2 linked regions of the Homo sapiens genome follow. The protein of the gene in region 1 binds, or shares a complex with, the protein of each later gene. Each region holds a gene or a part of one and is shown on either strand. Other genes may lie near its edges. The genes, in order: SART1 and PPIH.

Region 1 (3,809 bases):
GACTTTTTTTTTTTTTTTTTTTGGAGACAGGGTATTGCTCTGTTGCCCAGGCTTGAGTGCAGTGGCAAGATCACGGCTCACCATAGCCTCGGCCTCCAGGCTCAAGCAATCCACCCACCCCAGCCTCCCAAGTAGCTGAGACTACAGGCATACACCACCATGCCTGGTTGATCTTTGTGTTTTTTGTAGAGACTGTGCTTCACCTTATTGTCCAGGCTGGTCTCGAACTCCTGGGCTCAAGTGATCCTCCAGCCTCGGCCTCCCAAAGTGCTAGGATTATAGATGTGAGCAACCACCCGGCCCCTGGAAGAATTTTTTTTTTTTTTTTTTTTCGAGACGGGGTTTCACTCTTGCCCACTCTTTTGAGTGCAGTGGTGTGATCTTGGCAGCCTTGATCTCCCAAGCTCAAGCAGTACTCCCACCTCAGCCTCCCCAGTAGCTGGGACTATGGGCGTGTGTGACCACAATGTCTAATTTTTATGTTTTTTGTAGAGATGGGATTTGGGTATGTTGCCCAGGCTGGTCTCGATCTCCGGAACTCAAGCAGTCCACCCGCCTCAGAAGATTTTTTTAAAAAAATGAATGTAATATAAAATGAAAGAGGGGTGCAGAAGTGGACATAGTGACTCGAACCTTCACTGAGGAGTGAGGACTTTGCTGTCTGGGCTGCAGGGTTGAGGGAGAAGTTTTTTAAAGAGGGGAGATGGTAATCATTGTGTGTGGCTGGGCATCTGCGACAGGAGGGAAAGCAGAGGGTGCTGGTGCCCGTGTGGGGGTCGCTGGATTCAGTGCTGGCAGCATGAGTGAGTTCTCTTCCCATGTCACGGAACCTGCTTTCTTGGTGAAGCAGGAAGCGAGAAGCTGGGCTGTGGGAAGTCAAAAGCGTGGGCCACCTCACCACCCTGCGGGTTCTAGAAGTGCTGTCTAGAGTCCTGAAACCGGAGTTTGTCGGGGGAGGGGCAGGTGGCAGGAGGGAGCCTGGAGGAAGGAGTTTGAGGCTGAGGTAGTGTGTGAGGGGCTTTGGAGGGGGATTGGCACAGGCCTGGTCAGGAAGGCCCTGTAGGATGTTGGGTATTCATTCAAAGGGCATCCAAACCCATTGATGGGTTTGGAGCAGAAGAGTGACCCCAGTGAAAGAGGTGCAGAGTGGAGTTAGGCGGCAGATAGCAGCTGGGCCTGCATGGGCTGTGGGCGTGGCCTGTCTGGCTGCTGCCAGGGAGGACCCTTAGGTTCCTGGGTCTCAATGGCATCACCCCAGAAACTGCTGGGTTTGCCCACAGCCGCTCCCTCCCCCAGGTGGTGGAGATTGTGAAGAAGCTGGAGTCTCGCCAGCGGGGCTGGGAGGAGGATGAGGATCCCGAGCGGAAGGGGGCCATCGTGTTCAACGCCACGTCCGAGTTCTGCCGCACCTTGGGGGAGATCCCCACCTACGGGCTGGCTGGCAATCGCGAGGAGCAGGAGGAGCTCATGGTGCGTCTGGGGCGGCCCCGCCCTCTGCTTCCCTCGGCTGGGTGGGCTGGCTGGGGCCTGGGCCGACCCTGGTCTTTTGTGCCCCAGGACTTTGAACGGGATGAGGAGCGCTCAGCCAACGGTGGCTCCGAATCTGACGGGGAGGAGAACATCGGCTGGAGCACGGTGAACCTGGACGAGGAGAAGCAGCAGCAGGATGTGAGGGCCGCGCCGCTGGGGGGTGGGCGTTTGGGGGTGCTCAAGCTGGAGATGAGCACCGGGCTCGGTGTCCAGAGCCTCAGCCTCCTCATCCAGAGTGGGCTCTGCAGACCTCCCAGGGCGATCTGAGGAGTAAATGAGGAAATTAAATGTTGTGGAGGGCTGGTGCCTGGCAGGTGGTGACCAGTGGGTGGGGCTGAGAAGAGCCGGTATGGCCTGCTAACCACCCCCGCCACGTGTCCCGTAGTTCTCTGCTTCCTCCACCACCATCCTGGACGAGGAACCGATCGTGAATAGGGGGCTGGCAGCTGCCCTGCTCCTGTGTCAGAACAAAGGTAGGGAGCTCAGGGCAGCCATGACTTGGGTGGGCTTGGGTGCTGCTGCAGGTGCAGGCAGGGCCCCCTCCGGTCCCCTCTGCTGCCCCTTTCTCTCAGTCCCAATGCTGGAGCCAGCTGTCCGGCCCAGAGCCACTCCTTCCCCTCCACTGTGGCATCTGTCCGTCTGCTCTGCCTTTGAGGCTCCACACCTGCTTGGGGAAGGAGAGGGGAGTTGAAACTGTTCCAGCTGTGGCACAGAGAGCCCTGGTGTTAGGACCCCAGCTCTGCCATTTCCCTGGCCAGTGACCCTTGGCAAGGGGCTCATTTCTGCATCTTTGCTTTGCCTGTAGAACAGGCCTGATGGCTTTCCAGAGGCAAGGAAAGGGAGGTGCCCCCACAGGGCCTGCTCTGCCTTCTCAGGCGGCCCTGGAGCTGTGGCTCTCGAGGGGTTGGGAGTCTCACAACCCCTCCATCCCTAGGGCTGCTGGAGACCACAGTGCAGAAGGTGGCCCGGGTGAAGGCCCCCAACAAGTCGCTGCCCTCAGCCGTGTACTGCATCGAGGATAAGATGTGAGTGTGGTGGGGCCTGTGCAGGGCTGAGGGGCCTGTGCCAGCTTGGAGCTTCGGGACCACAGCAGGCGGCAGCTCCTCACACTAAGGCCTCCTCTGTCTCGGGCCAGGGCCATCGATGACAAGTACAGCCGGAGGGAGGAATACCGAGGCTTCACACAGGACTTCAAGGAGAAGGACGGCTACAAACCCGACGTTAAGATCGAATACGTGGATGAGACGGGCCGGAAACTCACACCCAAGGAGGTGAGCAGGGCCTTTTGCAGGCGGAGGCCCGGCCTGCCACAGGGAGGCCAAGCCCAGGGCCATGCAATGCCCCGGGCCATGCAATGCCCCAGGGTCCTGGCTCCACCAGCCTCTGGCTGGGGGCCTGGTGAATGCCACGGATGGGGAGGGGGCCCTCAGGGCTGAGGAAGGCTGTGCCTCAGTTTGTCTCTAGTGGGCACAGCAGTCTCTTTGCAAGCCTGGCAGGAGGGTCAGACAGGCACTCGGGACCTCTGCCCTCCTGTCCTCACCTGCGTGAGCCCTTCACTGGCTTTCCTGGCCCGCAGGGCCATTCCAGCGTCCAGGCCCTTCCAGCACTCTCGTAGGCCGCCCGACCGTCCTGCCCTACCACTCAGCTGCCCCCTTGCTCTCTGGGGTTTGTCTCCCTGCAGCCCCAGCCCCAGCCCCAGCGTCCAGGCCCAGCCCCTGCGTGGCAGGTCTCCAGGTTCCCCATGCTCTGCCCCCATGGCAGCGCATCCACTAGCCAAGCTGGTCTCCCGGCCTCTGCTGGGGCCCTGCAGGGTGCCAGCGTCTGTGCTCTTTTCCCATCCCCTTCCCACTGCACCCCAGGCCTGGCATTGGGGTCAATCAACACCCGCCCTGTTATTATACACCTTGTGGGCACAGGTGGCTCCGGCCCCACCCAGGGCCCTGCATCTCCTCTCATGCCCCGCGTCCCCAGGCTTTCCGGCAGCTGTCGCACCGCTTCCATGGCAAGGGCTCAGGCAAGATGAAGACAGAGCGGCGGATGAAGAAGCTGGACGAGGAGGCGGTGGGTGCCCTTGGGGATGTGGGGGGCCCTGTGCCTGCCGGGGCAGGGGTGGCTGGTGTGTGGGGCCTGCTGCAGCCCTTTCTGAGTGGCCCCGACCCCTCAGCTCCTGAAGAAGATGAGCTCCAGCGACACGCCCCTGGGCACCGTGGCCCTGCTCCAGGAGAAGCAGAAGGCTCAGAAGACCCCCTACATCGTGCTCAGCGGCAGCGGCAAGAGCA
Region 2 (3,809 bases), on another chromosome or scaffold:
GAAAGCTGAGTTTTTCATAAGAAGTTGATTTGTGGGCAAGGAATCAGAGCAAGAGAGGTAGATAGTTCTGGAGGAATTTTGCTCTATTCACTGAGAGAGCCCAGTGAAATAGTTCTTTTTTGCTAACCATAGCTTTCTTGTAAGTAGACTGTTTTTGTCCCCCATATGAAGCCTCCCTCCCCACCCCAACCTTGGAGGGTGTGGGATAAACTACATTTTTTCTTTCTTAAACCTGCTTTTGTCCTTACCCCCCACTTCTGAATGGTCTTTCTTTACTCTTATTAATATCATTTGGTTAGTTGTGTTGCTGTTTTCTTGGATCTGGGAGACATGTGTTCTCTTTTATGTGTTTATTTAGTCTGAATCTCATGAGTTTTTAAGACCTCTTTCCTTTCCTATGCAATACAGGGTTGCAGAGTGGCAGGTTTTAGGCCGAATTACGTTTTTACCTATGTTTTGATTCATCTGCATGGTGTTGTATAACTGTGAAATGGCACAAAAAAATCCTAGTTTTTTTTTCTCTTTAAAAAATGGAAAGTGGAAGTATGCTGGGCCTGCATTTCTCACAGTGGCAGTGACAGTGACAATTGGTTGGAATCAAGGAACTGGTCCCTTTGGACATGGCATATCTTTGCCATTTCACCAGTCTCCACAACTGTTTCCCTTATTTACGTTGCCTGCTCCTGTGGGCATTTGTTTGCAGCCCCGGGAAACAGATAATGGTAGTAGGGTTTGTTAGCTGGTAAGAAGGGCTGAGAAGCTATCCTCTGCCTTCTTTCCTTTTTTTTCCCCTAGGCTTCCCTGTTGCCTTACAAGGAGAGGAATAGCTTTTTACTAGTCTTTGCCCCAGGCACATCTGATCACTTGTCGATAACTCTGGGGTTAGACAATAGTTGCTCAGTCTGAAGGCCGAGTTAAAAGCAATTGCTGGTAGGGCTCACATCTGTAATCCCAGTACCTTGGGATGCTGGGAGGATTGCTTGATCCCAGGAGTTTGAGAACAGCTTGGCAACATAGTAAGACCCTGTCTCTACAAAAATAAGAAAAGTTATTTTTTATTTTTTTATTTTTGGTGGTGTGCGCCTGTAGTCCCAGGTACTTGGTAGGCTGAGGTAGGAGGATCCCTTGAGCCCAGGAGGTCAATTCAAGGCTGCAGTGAGCCATGTTCATACCACTGCACTCCAGCCTGGGCGACAGAGCAAGACCTTGTCTAAAGGGAAAAAAAAAAAGCTTGCTTAGAACCTTCCTTGGGGAAGGCAAAATGGAATGAGCAAGAGTCAGAAAAATCAGAATTTGAGACCTTCCAAAGTTTGACCAAGAATATTTGTTTGTTCATTTATTTTTGGTTTTAATAGTATTTATTATTTTGGTTGCAAAAGAAAAGTGCAAAGAAGAAAATAAATCACCAAATGAATTACCCTCATTCTCACCTCACAATATACTATTGGCATTTTGGTTTACAGTTGTCAGTCTTACCTTAGTATGTATATGTGTGTTTATATAATTTTTAACAGACTTAAAATAATCTATATGTTTTACTTTTTTTGTACTTCATAATTGTCCATATTTTCCCTTGTCGTTATGTCTTCTAAAACATGCTTTCTAATAGCCACCTAATATTTCATTATGAATAGACAAGTTATTTGATCAATTCACTATAGTTGAAGATAAGTTGCTTTCTATTGTTTGCTCCAAATTATTAATTTTGTAATTTTCCCTATTGTTTCTGGAGAGCTATAGATAACGTGATTACGGAGAATGGCACGGTAACTGATGTGTCCCTTAGGTTCACTGGGAAATTGGAGATGAACTTGTTTTCTCTCTTCCTTCTGTATTAATATGTATGTGTAGTTAGTTAATGACATATTAGCTTATTTGATTATTTATATAGTACTATATTGTTTGTACAGTGCTTTTTACAGACACTATCTAATTGAATCTTCATGATAACTGTAAAGAGTAGGTAATTTCATCCTCACTTGATAGATGAGGAAATTGAGGCTCACAGATTGGAAGTGACTTTCCCAGCTCTAAGTGATAGATCTGGAACTCAAATTCAGATCTTTTTTTTTTTTAGATGGAGTCTCGCTCTGTCGCCCAGGCTGGGGTGCAGTGGTGCGATCTTGGCTTACTGCAACCTCCACCTCCCGGGTGGGTTCAAGCGATTCTCGTGCCTCAGCCTCCCGAGTAGCTGGGATTACAGGTACCACCACCACACGTGGCTAATTTTTGTATTTTTAGTAGAGATGGGGTCTCACCATGTTGGCCAGGCTGGTCTCAAACTCCTGACTTCAGGTGATCCACCCGCCTCAGCCTCCCAAAGTGATGGGATTACAGGTGTGAGCCACCACACCAGGCCAGGTCTTTCTAATATACAGACTTGATTTTATTTTATAATATTTAGGCAAACAAAGGTTTGAATTTGGACAGTTTTTCTTTATTCTCTGGCTTATATTAATGGTAGTTCTTTTCCAAAAAGGGACCCTTGATTCCTCACTGGGTCAGTGTTTTCCCTTTCTCCCATGTACTCTTTCTCTTTACTAACTGGCGAGGAGAGCTTGATCTTTTTGGCACTCCTCAATATTGCCTTTAAAACTCAGGGATTCTATTTAAGGCACTGCAAATATGGCCTTGGTCAAATTGTTTTATTACCCAGACTTCAGTTTCCTCACATGAAAAATGGGGAAGATGATAATGCTTATTCCTCAAGGTTGCTGGAAGAGCAAGGAGATAATGCAAATAAAGCTAGTTTAAGCAGAAATTGGGAGTTTATAATAAAGGGAGTGTTTCATGGAACTAAAGGAAGAAATAGAACTAGGAACTAGAACCATAGAGAACCAAGGCAGTTCTTTATCTCCGTTTCTCTAGTGCTCGCTACACATCTGTGTTGTGTTCTCTCTCTGTTCTCTAGCCCAGCTTGCAAATGGTAGTCACATCCAGCTTTCAGGTTTACATGTTACAAATTTAGCCTCAAAGAGAGCATCTATCCCACCTCCAGATTCCCAGAGAAGGAACTCTAGTTGGCCCAGAGTGAGTTAGGCATCCTTCCCTAGATCAATCAACTATGACCAGGAGGGTGGTATCATGTTGTACATACAGACTGCCAAGAGCTCACCCACCCTCTTAGATAGTTTAGGGGAATGGGGTGGTAGTCACTTAAGTGGGTACTTTTATGTGACTGAAGGCATGAGAGTCTTCAGGAATGGCAAGGATTGAGTATGTGATCACCTTGTTGCTGTTCCCTACTTTGTCTGCATCTTAATTGATCGTTCTAGAGGCCCAGCTGTGACCTCTTTTATCCAGTCTATAAAATGCTCCAGCCAGTCTTTGTGGGCTGTAGGTACCTTATATAAGGCTTGATCTGATTGCAGGGTGGGGTCAAATAGGTGCAGCTTCCAAGATGACCAACAAGAGTAAGAGTAGACTTTAAAGATGTCATGCTTTAGGTGCGACAGTGTTCTTCCTCCGGTTTCCAGGGACCCAACACTCCAAGTCACTAATACTTCCCTTCTCTCTGCTCAGGGAGATGGTACTGGAGTCGCCAGTATTTACCGGGGGCCATTTGCAGATGAAAATTTTAAACTTAGACACTCAGCTCCAGGCCTGCTTTCCATGGTAAGTGAGGTCCAATCAAGGTTTTGGGTTATAGCCAGCTGGTTCCTGGGCCCCTCTTGAGGCCCAGTGCTGTCTCTTGGGATGGAAGCAAATGCTTTCCTTCTCTTGCTTGGCCCAGGACTCACCTTTACCACCTCCTTTCTTAGTCTGGTTTGACTGAGAAAACCAGTAGGTATGCTGGCTCACGCCTGTAA

The links.
Region 2: SART1 (region 1) and PPIH share a complex: the UniProt entries of both Homo sapiens proteins name them as parts of the U4/U6-U5 tri-snRNP complex.

What each region holds. Positions count from the first base shown.
Region 1 is NC_000011.10:65,975,099-65,978,907, forward strand, and holds part of SART1 (U4/U6.U5 tri-snRNP-associated protein 1), read left to right. Parts: intron 1-1,280; coding exon of another isoform or gene 1,281-1,296; coding exon 1,297-1,470; intron 1,471-1,557; coding exon 1,558-1,668; intron 1,669-1,915; coding exon 1,916-2,003; intron 2,004-2,464; coding exon 2,465-2,555; intron 2,556-2,665; coding exon 2,666-2,801; intron 2,802-3,501; coding exon 3,502-3,591; intron 3,592-3,694; coding exon 3,695-3,809. UniProt on the Homo sapiens protein: Plays a role in mRNA splicing as a component of the U4/U6-U5 tri-snRNP, one of the building blocks of the spliceosome. May also bind to DNA.
Region 2 is NC_000001.11:42,661,341-42,665,149, forward strand, and holds part of PPIH (peptidyl-prolyl cis-trans isomerase H), read left to right. Parts: intron 1-3,522; coding exon 3,523-3,615; intron 3,616-3,809. UniProt on the Homo sapiens protein: PPIase that catalyzes the cis-trans isomerization of proline imidic peptide bonds in oligopeptides and may therefore assist protein folding. Participates in pre-mRNA splicing.